Linked DNA regions of Homo sapiens. The protein of the gene in region 2 interacts with the protein of the main gene of each other region in a pairwise test. Each region holds a gene or a part of one and is shown on either strand. Other genes may lie near its edges.

What was found. The genes of interacting proteins can lie anywhere in the genome.
Region 1: the proteins of COL5A1 (region 2) and TNC interact in a two-hybrid assay, tested with the Homo sapiens proteins (one study listed by IntAct).

What each region holds. Positions count from the first base shown.
Region 1 is NC_000009.12:115,019,071-115,024,185, forward strand, and holds the end of TNC (tenascin isoform 1 precursor), read right to left. Parts: intron 5,067-5,115; coding exon 4,903-5,066; intron 2,198-4,902; coding exon 2,087-2,197; 3' UTR 505-2,086; downstream 1-504. UniProt on the Homo sapiens protein: Extracellular matrix protein implicated in guidance of migrating neurons as well as axons during development, synaptic plasticity as well as neuronal regeneration. Promotes neurite outgrowth from cortical neurons grown on a monolayer of astrocytes.
Region 2 is NC_000009.12:134,644,783-134,651,814, forward strand, and holds part of COL5A1 (collagen alpha-1(V) chain isoform 1 preproprotein), read left to right. Parts: intron 1-3,271; exon of another isoform or gene 3,272-3,482; intron 3,483-3,608; exon of another isoform or gene 3,609-5,424; intron 5,425-7,032. UniProt on the Homo sapiens protein: Type V collagen is a member of group I collagen (fibrillar forming collagen). It is a minor connective tissue component of nearly ubiquitous distribution. Type V collagen binds to DNA, heparan sulfate, thrombospondin, heparin, and insulin.

The sequences.
Region 1 (5,115 bases), about 20 Mb from region 2:
CCTTGCTCCAGAGCCATCACATTCCATTTGAATGAGGCCTATCAGCCCAAACTTGACTTATTTTATTAAATAAGTCAATTTTCTGAAAATCCCTAAGAGAATGAACTGGGAATTACTCTCCCCCCATATACCCTTGTTTAAAAAGAGAAATGTTATGCGTTGAGCAGTTCTGACTCACTATATTTGCTGAGGACTAACAGACCTGCCATCCAGGCAATGGGTTCCCCATCACTAGATGTGTTCAGTCTGAGGCTGGAGGAATATGGGCTTGCTCCCTTTTTGGGGACTGCAGTGTAGAGGAGAAGGCGATATTCCTAATAGACATTCTTCCTAGTTTTCAGAGTTCAGGATTGTAGAAGCCTGAGGAAGCATCCAGTTGAACTGCCCCCATATCCCATTCTGCAACCTTCACTCTCTTGCCACAGCACACATTTCCCCAAAGAAGGAGAGATTTTCATTAAGGGACCGGGAAAGAGCAGGAACATTGGAGCCAGAAGACCTGGGTTTAAATCCAAATTCTATTATTTATTGAGTAGTAGCCACAATCAAGTCATTGGGTTTCTATGAACCCCAGTCCATCTCATATAAAGTGATAATGATGATAGCTAACATGTACTAGCACTTAATATACACCGGGTACCATTCTAAGGGCCTCAAATGGATAACATAATTTATTCTTCACAAAAATGTTCTGAAATGAGAAGTATGAGTGTCCCTACTTTACAGAAGAGGAAACTGAGGCATAGAGAGGTTAGGGAACTTGGGAATGGTGGAGCCAAGAATTGAACTCAGGCAGTCTGCCTCTGGGGATCTTAGCCCATGTGTGGTAACAATACTTACCTCAACTATATCATAGAGTTTCTAGGAGTTGCATTAGAAAATGAGTATAAAAGCATCTTTTAAACCATAATCTATTAGTCTTGGAAATACTGAGCAAGATGCTGAATCTCAAGTTGTAAGCTTTTTTTTTCTTTTCTTTTTTTATTTAGAGACAGGGTCTCCCTCTGTTGCCCAGGCTGGAGTGCAGTAGTGTGATCATAGCTCACTGTAACCTCTAACTCCTGGGCTCCAGTGATTTTCCTACCTCAGCCTCCTGAGTAGCTGGGACGACAGGTGCGCACTACCACGCTTGCCTAATTAAATTTTTTTTTTTTTTTTTTTCTGTAGAGACAAGTTCTCACTATGTTGCTCAGGCTGGTCTCAAACTCCTGGGGTTAAGCTATCCTCCCACCTTGGCCTCCCAAAGTGTTGGGATTACAGGCCTGGCCTGTAAGCTTTTCCCAAGTGTGTTCAACTTTATTTAAAAAAAGTGCTTCCCTCTCTCCCAGTCTTTAGTCTCCTTTCCACCCCTCCCACTTGACCACTATCCCTACTTACCTTTCCTATCCCAACATTCCCCGCTTTGTTCAAATGATTGGCTTTGGTGAAATTCAGACTCAACAATTCAAAGCAAAATAACAAACTCAAAAGTACTTGTGCTTTTATTTAAAAAAAAAATACAATCAGGTACTGTCCAGAAATGTTTTGGAAAGAAAGATCTCTTGAAAAATCCTTAGTTTTCATCATCATCATCATCATTATTATATTAATAATATTAATCATATCCTTAAAATGGAAACAGTATTGCTTTTCTGGTTTCTGTTGTATGAAATGTAAAAAAAGGGATGGCTTCCAATGACACATTTAATCTTTGCTAACAAAAATAATGACAATTAATTATACAGCTTCATGTAAAATACGGCTGGTTCTAAAACAAACTACCCCTGTACATCCTACCCCTCTCCCATTCCCAGAGCCACCTAAGAGAAGTAAAAAACTATTGCGATGTTGTCACTGGGAGATTTTTGCTGAATCAAACAACAAAACAGAAACATGTTGGAGACTGATGTCTTTGGTGCAAAGAAAGAAATCACAGAGGAGGTGAGGCCCATGCTGTTGCCGTTGGCCCCAGGGATCCATGGTCAGCTTTGACTCTCACCAAATGCCCAGGTGTGGACCGATGGTTGGGCTGGTTGTATTGATGCTTTGGTAAAATCCTTTCCTCGCTCTGGGCCTTATTCCTCTCTCACCCAGTGGTCCCTGGAATTTATGCCCGTTTGCGCCTGCCTTCAAGATTTCTGAAGTTGCTTGGTCTCAGCTTCATCTCAGCAAACTGGATTGAGTGTTCGTGGCCCTTCCAGTGGAACCAGTTAACGCCCTGTTAAAAAAAAAAAAGAGAGAGAGAGAGAGAGAGAGAAGGCCTCCAGGTTGGTTACTGTTAGGCGAGGTGTTCACTGATCATTGCTATTTAGTCATTCAAACTAAATGAGTTCTGTTTCAATTTGACCATTTGGTATATCACAGCTGCCTCTTGCCTATCTCTCTGTTGGTCTGGGTTGTGGAAACTTTCAAAGGAACTGGCTGAATCTGACCCAGTTTTTCACCTGAGTCAAGAGTCGCCTGAGTTTGCATGGAGCTTTGGTCTTTCCTCTTGAGGCAAAATGGTGGCTGATGAAATCTGCCGTCCTTAGGAATAGGTTCTGAAGGAGTTCAGGTCATTATTAGAAGTTCTAGAATTGAATAGCTACATACATGGTGTGTGTGTGTGTGTCTGTAATTCACGAGATTCCTATGGAGTATTTTGATAGGGGTTTGGTATGGAATAGCAGAACGAACAGCTCAACAAAACACAGTTTTACAATTTGACATATAGGGTTAAATATCAGTGTTCTTACTTGAGAGATAAATAGTCTTAAGTTCTCAATATCTTCTGAGCCTCGGTTTTACTATTTTTTTTTCTTTCTTAAGATCTGATAATGTTAGCCTTGAAAGATGAGATGAAGATTAAATGAGTTTGTAAAGGAGCTATCACAGAGCTGGGCACGTCGTAGGTGCTTGGTAAATATTACTTCCCTAGTCTCAAGTAGGGGGAAATATCCTTGAAATTTTGGCCAAAGCTTTCTACAAGAAAAAACTGTATCTGTGTCTTGGCTTCCAGGTTTCAACTTTGACTCTTCAGCGAAGTCTGCAGATGGTAGAGTCAATCCATGAAACCCCACATGGCCCCTTGCCCCACTGTGGGGAAGTTAATGGCTAGTGAGATGGGAAAAAAATAGAGACACTTTATTTGCTTCTAATTGTTTGGCATTCACTGACATGGGCAGTTTCTGAGTCTTACAGGGATGTGAGGTTTAAGAATGGCTCATTCATTTCATGGGCAAATCCGCTTGTAATTACTCAGTTACAGTGAGTATGGTAGTCCAACAGCTTGGTGCACATGCTGCCTGCCTTTGCCCTGGTTCTTTCCTCTGATAGTTCAGGGTTGGAAGCCACGCCTTCTTGTACTGTGGTGGGCACTAAAGCCAGAGAGGGAGAGTGACTTTGCAGAGGCCACACAGCAGGAGGAGCAGAGCTGGAGCTGGGGCTCCCCTCCTGTGGCTCCTTTCCATGTCATCTCTTTCTTCTTCCATAATTGAATGGAAGGATGAAAGAGAGGCTTGCTTTCTAACATGTAGCTTGTTGGTTTTTTTTTTCTTTTCCCAGAAGAACTTTGTATTATACGAGTATTTTTGAGACAAGGCAATAAAGATGATAAAATAATGCTCAGAATGGAAATATTGATGAAATAACACAATAAGATGGAAACAACACAGGACTGCTGTCAAGAAATGTCCTGTGACTCTTGCCTCCTCTGTAAAACAGGCATGAAAAACCACATCCTAATTCCTGCACAGGGTAAAAATGATAAACCCTTGAGATACAGAAGGTAACAGTGCTTTGAAAAGTGCCAGAAATTATGTAAGGTAAGGTCTACACTTAAGGTCGCAGGTGTCATTTGCTAGCAGTTAATTAGGGCATAAACATGTGTATCAAAGTGACTAATATTGAAAAGCAACAGGTCCCAACACCTGCTGCATGTCAGGAATCGCTTGTGGAGTCTATCAACTGCCTCCCCCCTGACCCCACAACAACAAAAATGCAAATATGCAAAAAAAAAAAAAAAATGAGATGCTGTGTCTTGCCTGAGATCATTGAATCAGAATCCCTGGGGTTATCATAAAGTGGAATTTGGCCCTTTGCATTTTTATAAAGTCCTTGGGATTCCAGTGAGCAGACCTCATAAGCATCCTTGTGGTCCAGGGATCAGCGTGGTGTGGCCCCAAGGGAAGATCCAGCCCTCCTCCCAGGGATGGTGACTAACTTCTGTGGAGGGACCTGGGCAGGGGTTTGGTTATGATTAAGTGGCTAGTCCCACACAGCTTTACACTTTTCAGGAATGTGCCAGTGTAGGCAAGGCTCAGAGTAAGGGAGATTACTGAATTTGATCCGTTCGCCTATTTCTAAAAGGGATCGAAAAAAATCTGTTTCTGTGATTGTAGAAGTGCTAGAGGTGTGTGTGGTGCAGGGAAAATGCCAGGGGCTGGAAGTGGGGAGAGCTGGCTCTGCTGCCAACTTCACTCTGTGACCTCAGGAAAGTCAGCTTTTTCTGGGCCTTGGTTTCTTCACAAAAGGAGGAGATTTAAAGTCTGTGGACTTCATTTTAAGGTGTTCTTGGGATTCCAAAGATGCCCCAGGCCAGGGGTTCTGTGTCATCAACCCTGCTTCACCTAAATGGCCTCCACTTTTATCTGCTTTACTTTTGGGGTTCAGACAGAGATTTTGTCTGAGTAAAGCGTTCTGTTTTTGGAATCCATTTGACCAGTGTTTGTCCTTGGGACTGTCAAGGGTTAACCTGTGCTGTTTCTATTTTACCTGGCCTGCAGTGTCCTTGAGATTGCTCACTGCCTTGGGAAAAACATGTTGTCATACAAGTAAGGTTCCTGCCTCCTAGTCTCTGCTAGGATAGGGAGTTAAATTGTACTTCCATTAGCCCCCTCCAGCTTCCCAAGCTTGGCCTGCTCTGGGCCCTCACGGTCCACTCACCTGACTGTGGTTATTGTCCCCATATCTCCCCATCAGGTTGACACGGTGACAGTTCCTGTACCAGAAAGCCCCTTTGTAGGACAGAGCACAGTTGGTGATGGCTGAATCTGTGTCCTTGTCAAAGGTGGAGAAGGATCTGCCATTGTGGTAGGCCATGGAGTCACCTGGGAGAGACAGAAAATATGGACCTGAGAAATCTCAGCTGAAATTTCC
Region 2 (7,032 bases):
ACCCCAATATTTGGAAATTGAGGTCATCTCCTCTACACGCCATTGGTTGACTCCAGTCACGTGATTGCTTTTTGCAATAATTTGTGGGGAGAGTCGGCCAAGTTTTGTGAGACTTGACAGGTATCAAATGGTTAAATTTCCTCTGACTCAATCAAGTTGGCTGGAAAGACATCCTTTTCCATCCTCTGCCCCCTCCCTCCCTCTCCCCATAAAAGAGCAGTGAGTGGGAGGAGCTCAGAAGCCCCAAGAATTCCCCAAGCCCTCTCCCTGCTGTGGTCCAGATTTGCCGGAGGGGTTGGAGTTTTGGTTGCTACCCAGGGCTGTGCCCACCCAGCAGTGCGGCAGCCCCAGGCAGGGGCGTGCTCCCAGTGCCAGGCTCACAGTGGTTTCTCCAGTGATGTTACTCCTGGGCTGCTCCTGCGGGGCTGGCCAGAGCCTGCTCTTCACCCCGCCCTGCAGATATTTCTGGACTCCCCACCGCCACGCCTCAGCCGAACACAGCTGGTGCTGCCCGTCCCGCCCTGCCTTCTCGCTGCCTGGCCTGTCTGCCTGCCCTGCCTCCTCCCTGGACCGCCCCATCCCACCTCCTGGGAGATAGACCTTGATAGGTGGAGTAGGGGCTGTGCAGAGCAGTGAGCTGCCCCGCTGGAGGGCGAGGATGAGTCCCCAACACTTCCCGAGGGCACCCACATAGGAGCCTGAGCCAAGCTGCATCTGGAACAGTGCAGGACCTGTCCCTGCTCGGTCACGTGACGTGGCTCTGGGAATGGCCTTGGGAGACAATCACACATGGGAATGGAGGGGCTGGCACTTGCCTGGCCTGTGGTGAGCATCAGCTGCACCATCTCACTGCACCCTCACCCGGGCCTGAGAAGGGACAGAGCCTAGGAGTCAGGGGGCAGGGATGCCAGGCAGATGTCTTCCATTCCTGCTGTGGGGCCCTAAGCCAGCAACGGCCCTTCGCCTGGCATGGTCACTCTTTGACTTGTCACAGTTCCCTCTTCTCACTTCCCATCGGTTTATCAGCTCTCCCCGGGGAGAAGGCCAGGGCCCTGAGCTATAGTCCTGGCCTGGGGGCCCAGTCCAAACAGGGTCCTGGGAGCAGAGCCATTCCATTTGGCCAACACAGCTTTTAAGTTCCTTTCTTTCTCCTTCCCCCTCCATCCTTCCCTCCTTCCTTCTTTCCTCCCTCTCTTCCTCCCTCCCTCTCTCCCATCCCCTTCCTTCCTTCCCTTTGTCCCTCCATCCCTTCTCTTTTTACTCCAGTGCCTTCAAGAGGGATGCAGCAGCCACAGTCTCCACCACTTCCCAGGCCTCTCTGCACATCAGCATAACCTGCCTGGACCCTGAAGGCTTTTGCCTTTTCACCTGGGTCGGGCCTATCTTGGGGAGACCGAGGCAAATGGGATGGGACCCCTCGTTTCCTTCCAGGAGCTCACAGTCTGACAGGCAGACCATTGTGAATTTTACTCAGGGCCCTCCATGGGATGTGCTGGGTCTTGCATCCGACAGTCTGGGAGGGTTAATTGCACTGGGGAGAGCTGGGGAGCTTCCTGGAGGAGGTGATGTGAAACTGGCCTTCCCTCCTTCTCTTCTCCTTCCTTTTATTGCAGAAATGACCCTCCTTCGTGGGGTCCTCCTCCACCTCTGGCTTTAATCTTGCTCTCTTCCCTCCTTCTGACAGGACATTCCACACCGTGTCCCAGAGCTCTCCTGGGCGGCTCCCTTGGCTGGAAAGCCCCTCATTCACGGGCTTGGCAGGTGCTCCCAGTATCTGTTTGCCAGGAGAATACAAGTGCCCCTAAGGGAAGTGGCAGATCCTGGCAGCTTCCTTAACCCTTTCTCTGCCCCCGTTCCTCCTGTTTCCCTTTGACGAGCCCTGCTGGCCTGGCACAGTGAGCCCAGTCTGCACAGCTCTGCAGACAGCTCCACAGCTGTGGATTAGGATGTGGGGGCCTCTGGGGGTGATTTTGGGTACCTGTGCTGGGTGACAGGTGGTCGGATGTGGGAGGGGACATTCCTTGGCAATCAGATTACTGAACTCCAGGCCAGCAAGGTCGGTGTGAGGCTGGAGCTGAGTTTCCCTGCCTCTGAGGGGCTGTCGGATGGGCTGGGCGAGGACAAGTCACTGCACCTCAGCTTCCCCTCGTGAACATGGGGAGAACCACATTTCTTGCTTTGAGGCATGGTTGTGAAGATCGATTGAGGCCACACCTGTGAGAAGCTTTGCAGGCTGCCTGACCTGTACTCGGCACTGGCTGTGTGGGGACGTTACCATCGCCCCCATCTTCAGTGGTGGTTTTGCAGGAGGAAAGAGCAGTGTTCCCACAGCCCTCTTTAGCTCCCAGAAGCACAGGCGAGGGAGGTGTGCCTGTGTGGGGCCTGGCCCTGCTGAGACCCCTGGGGCTCTGCTGTTGCCCGCTTAGCCGGTCTCTGCTGCCCCTTTGCCTTCCTTGGCCTCGGTTCTTTGCTTTCCCACGGAACCTCATGGGGTCATTGTCCAGGCCGTGGGGTGTGATGCATGTGAAAAGCTTTAGAAGCCAATTCCAGGGTTTGCACTCATGTGTGCGTTTGTGTGTATGTGTGTCATGTGTGCGTGTGTGTGTGTGTGTGTCAGGCCGTGTGCACGTGTGGACAATGTGTATATCTCCCCGCGATCTGCCTGCACACATGTGTTTGTGGGTATACATGTGTGTTTGAGTGTGCACGCATGCGCATCCTTGCACATGTACCTGCGTTCACATGGGTGTCCCTGGCTGACTCCACGTGCAGGGCCTGGTGTGTTTGAGGAGCTCGTGGCAGGGCGACGTTTCTCTCCTTACCGTGACCCGGCCCCAGCTGGACGGGAGAGGAGGAGATGGCACGTGGAACCTGCCGGTTGAGCGTGAGGCTGTGGGTTCTGCCGCAGGGCAAGCCGGGTCCAGCTGGATCCGACAATTTCATGTCTTTTTAAACTCCCGGGAGGGCGATGTTACATTATGGCTCCCGCTTCTCCTCTATTTACATTCTCCCATATAATTGACTCGTCTGCTCTCTCTCAGTGCTTTGCCAAGTGTCGGTTTTAAAGTTTCTGGCCTGGCTGGTGGATGTGCCTCGATCCTGCAGGCGGAGCCCACAGCGGCCCTTGTGGTGGTTACTACTGAGTGTCAATTTGATTGGATTGAAGGATACAAGTATTAATCCTGCGTGTGTCTATGAGAGTGTTGCCAAAGGAGATTAACATTTGAATCAGTGGGCTGGGGAAGGCAGACCCACCGTTAATCGGGAGGGCACAATCTAATCAGCCGCTAGCAGGTGTAGAGCAGGCAGAAAAACATGAAGAGACGAGACTGGCCCAGCCTCCCAGCCTACATCTTTCTCCTGTGCTGGACGCTTCCTGCCCTCGAACATCGGACTCCAAGTTCTTCAGGTTTGGGACTCGGACTTGCTCTCCTTGCTGCTCAGCTTGCAGACAGCCTATTGTGGTGGGACCTTGTGATTGTGTAAGTCAGTACTTAATAAACTCCTATATATATATATATAATATATATATATATATTTCTATTATTTCTATTCCTATTAGTTCTGTCCCTCTAAGGGAACCCTGACTAATACAGCTCTGCTCATAGGCAGGACTGCAGGACTGCAGCCACCAGGACATGGCATAGGGACCAGGGTGGCCTGCTGGCAAAGGACAGGCAGCCGGCAAGACTCCTGGATTCCTATCCTGGCTCCAGTGTCTACCAGCAGTGCATTTTCCCACCCTGTGCCTCACTTTCCCCATCTGTAAGAAGGGGGTGGTGACTGTAACTACAGTAGGGTTTTAGTGATGTCTAATGTATTACTCATATAAAGCACAGAGTAAGACCCCATTACTGCCCTTGCCACCAGGGGCCCCAGTGCAGCAGGAGGCTGTGAGGTGGTTTGGGGCCCTCTACTCGCTGGCCTGTGCGTGCTCCCTTGCCATCCTGTGTGGTGTCACACTGCTGCTTCCCTCACTGGGTACGCAGGAGAAAAGGTAAGGCAGTAAGCACCAGTGGTCAGTTCAGCGGATCGCTCGCTGCTCGCTGCCTCTGAGGCTCTGAGCCTGAGCCAGGAAGGTGCATCCTTGGGCAGTCGCGGGCCAGGCCAAGTTCAGCCCGCAGAGTGGCCCTCCCCTGCCTCCTCTGGCCACTTGCTCTTTACAAGGAACGGAGGTCCAGGAGGTGGATGGACCTGTGCACCTCCCAGCTGCAGGCCTCTGTTCTGTCTCTGTGATGTGATGGCGGTGAGTGGTGGCTGATCACTGAAAGGAGGTGTTCCAGGCAGGGGTGGGTGAAGTTGGTGCGGGCGGGGTGTGGGGGGGGCTTTGCCATCTCAGATGTTGTTTTTGTGCCAGCCCAGCCCCAGGCCACTGGAGAGAAGACCGTGGAATGAATGAATTGGTGGCTGGATGCTCAGTGGAGGGGTGCGGGTCACTTTGAGTTATCCATGTCAGATAGTCCGAGCCGTCACACCCTCAGCTTCCTATCAGCAGAGGAGTTTTTCTGGAGGAATCTCAAACTAGGTAATAACCTCATATTAGCAGTAAATGTCACCATCCTTTGATGACTCAGACCTAAGAAATGGAACCACAGCCTGACCCACTTTTCTCAAAATTTAATTACTCAGAGCTCTGGGGACATGGGCTCAGCCTATTTGCCGAGATGTCTCTGCCCATGAAATGGAAGCTTCCTTTATTTTCTGTTTCCTAGACCCGTGTTCTTGTAGGGAAATTAGCTCTTCTGTCCTTTTCTTCCTTGCCAGGACCTCGGCAATAGGGTTTCTGGTGGCCTCTTTTTTTTCTGTAAATAAATGCCACAAAATGACATAAAAACAGTGTGGTGATTCCTCAAGGATCTAGAACCAGAAATACCATTTGACCTGGTGATCCCATTACTGGGTATATACCCAAAGGATTATAAATCATCCTACTATAAAGAGAAATGCACACGTATGTTTATTGCGGCACTGTTCACAATAGCAAAGACTTGCAACCAACCCAAATGCCCATCAATGATAGATTGGATAAAGAAAATATGGCACATATACATCATGGAATACTATGCAGCCATAAAAAAAGGATAGTTCATGTCCTTTGCAGGGACATGGATGAAGCTGGAAATCATCATTCTCAGCAAACTAACACAAGAACAGAAAACCACAAACACCACATGTTCTCACTCATAAGTGGGAGTTGAACAATGAGAACACACGGACACAGGGAGGGGAACATCATGCACCAGGGCCTGTTGGGGGGTGGGGGGCTAGGGGAGGGAGAGCATTAGGAGAAATACCTAATGTAGATGACAGGTTAATGGGTGCAGCAAACCACCATGGCATGTGTATACCTGTGTAACAAACCTGTGCGTTCTGTACATGTATCCCAGAACTTAAAGTATAATAAAAAAAATTTTTTTAAATGTGTGTATGTAGCAGGAGTGACTTAAGTTGAAAAACTCTGACCCTTGCATTGGGAAACAGTGATCTCCCAGTGAGAACACATGAGCATCGTAACCGTCTTCCATTGGAAGCGACCGTCTTCCATTCTGCTGGCGGGTGGCCTGGGGGACCAGCACTCTTTCCCGTGTGTGGGTACAGAGGGAACAGATGGGGTCCATATGCAAAGACATTGGGTGTGTCAGCAGGTTTGCTTGGCAGCATTTATGGACCCCTAACATGAGACGGACCTGTGCGGGGGGCACAGGTGAGCGATAGGCGAGCCGTCTGTGCCCTACTGGGTCTTCCGCTGCGGCGGGGGAGTCAGCCATCTGAACAGGTGGTTTTACCCAGTGAGGTGCAGTAGAAGTGGGAGTAGGGTGTGGCCAAGGCCAGTCTAGGGAGGCACCTGCCAGCCCCATGGGGCGGTGGCCAGTCAGAGACCAGCCTGCTTCTCCAGGGCCAGCCCTTTGGGATGCATGCGCCTGAAGGCAGGCTCCCATTGGTGGATGCAGAGGGCACGTTCCCGTGCATGTTCTTCCTCTGGCTCTTGTTCATATTTTCATATTTACACTGGACCCTGCTCTGAGGGTGCTCCCGTCAGCACCTGTGATCCTCAAACCCGCCCTTCGTGCCAGGTGGGATCGGCCCATTCTGCAGATGTGCCAGTCTAGCTCCTTGAGTCCAGCTGGCACAAGGGGATGAAAACCACCCTCCACGTCCCAGTGGTCACACGGCCTGCATGTTGGTGCAGGTCCGTACAGTCACATGCATGGACGCAAGCAGCCTCTGTCCATTCTCAAGGCCAGGTGAGGGCGGCGTGGCTCCGCTCCCTCCTGTTTGTTTGCTGGCGCCAGCCTCCATGGCAGCTGGGTCCCAGTGCTTCAGAAGGGGAGCCATGGCCCCAGGCAACAGTGCGTACCTGAAGCCTCTGCCTCGGTTTCTTCTTCTTCCTTTCAGATGCATAAAAATGCACATCAAGCCTGGGCACCATCTGGTGGCCTCTTTATTTTTTAAATAAATGCCATAAAATGACATAAAAACAGTGTGGCGATTCCTCCAGGATCTAGAACCAGAAACACCATTTGACCCAACAATACCATTACTGGGCACCACCTCTACAGAAATTTCAGAAACAATTAGCCAGGTGTGGTGGTTCGTGCTTGTGGTCCCAGCTACTTGAGAGGCTGAGGTGGGAGGATCACTTGAGCCAGGGAGGCTGAGGCTGCAGTGAGCTGTGTTTGTGCCACTGCACTGTAGCCTGGGTGACAGAGTGAGACCCTGTCTAAAAAAAAATGAAAATAAAAATAAAAATGTACACCAGAGAGCACGGTGGTCTCAGCTTTTCCAGCTGTAGTTTCGTCTTTCTTCTGGAGGACAGAGGCCCAGCCATCTGCATCCTCAGCACACAATTAGGTCAGTCACTGGGGCCTGTTGTGGGGGTGACAGGCAAGCCTGGGTGTGGGGAGAGCCGGCCCGTTGCCCATGGGCTCTGCACAGTGGGTGGGTGCAGGTGCGATGACAGGCGCGGGACAGAGGGGCCCCTGGGGGGACTTTTCTCGGGTCCTCTGCCTTCCCACCACTGTGTCCATCAGG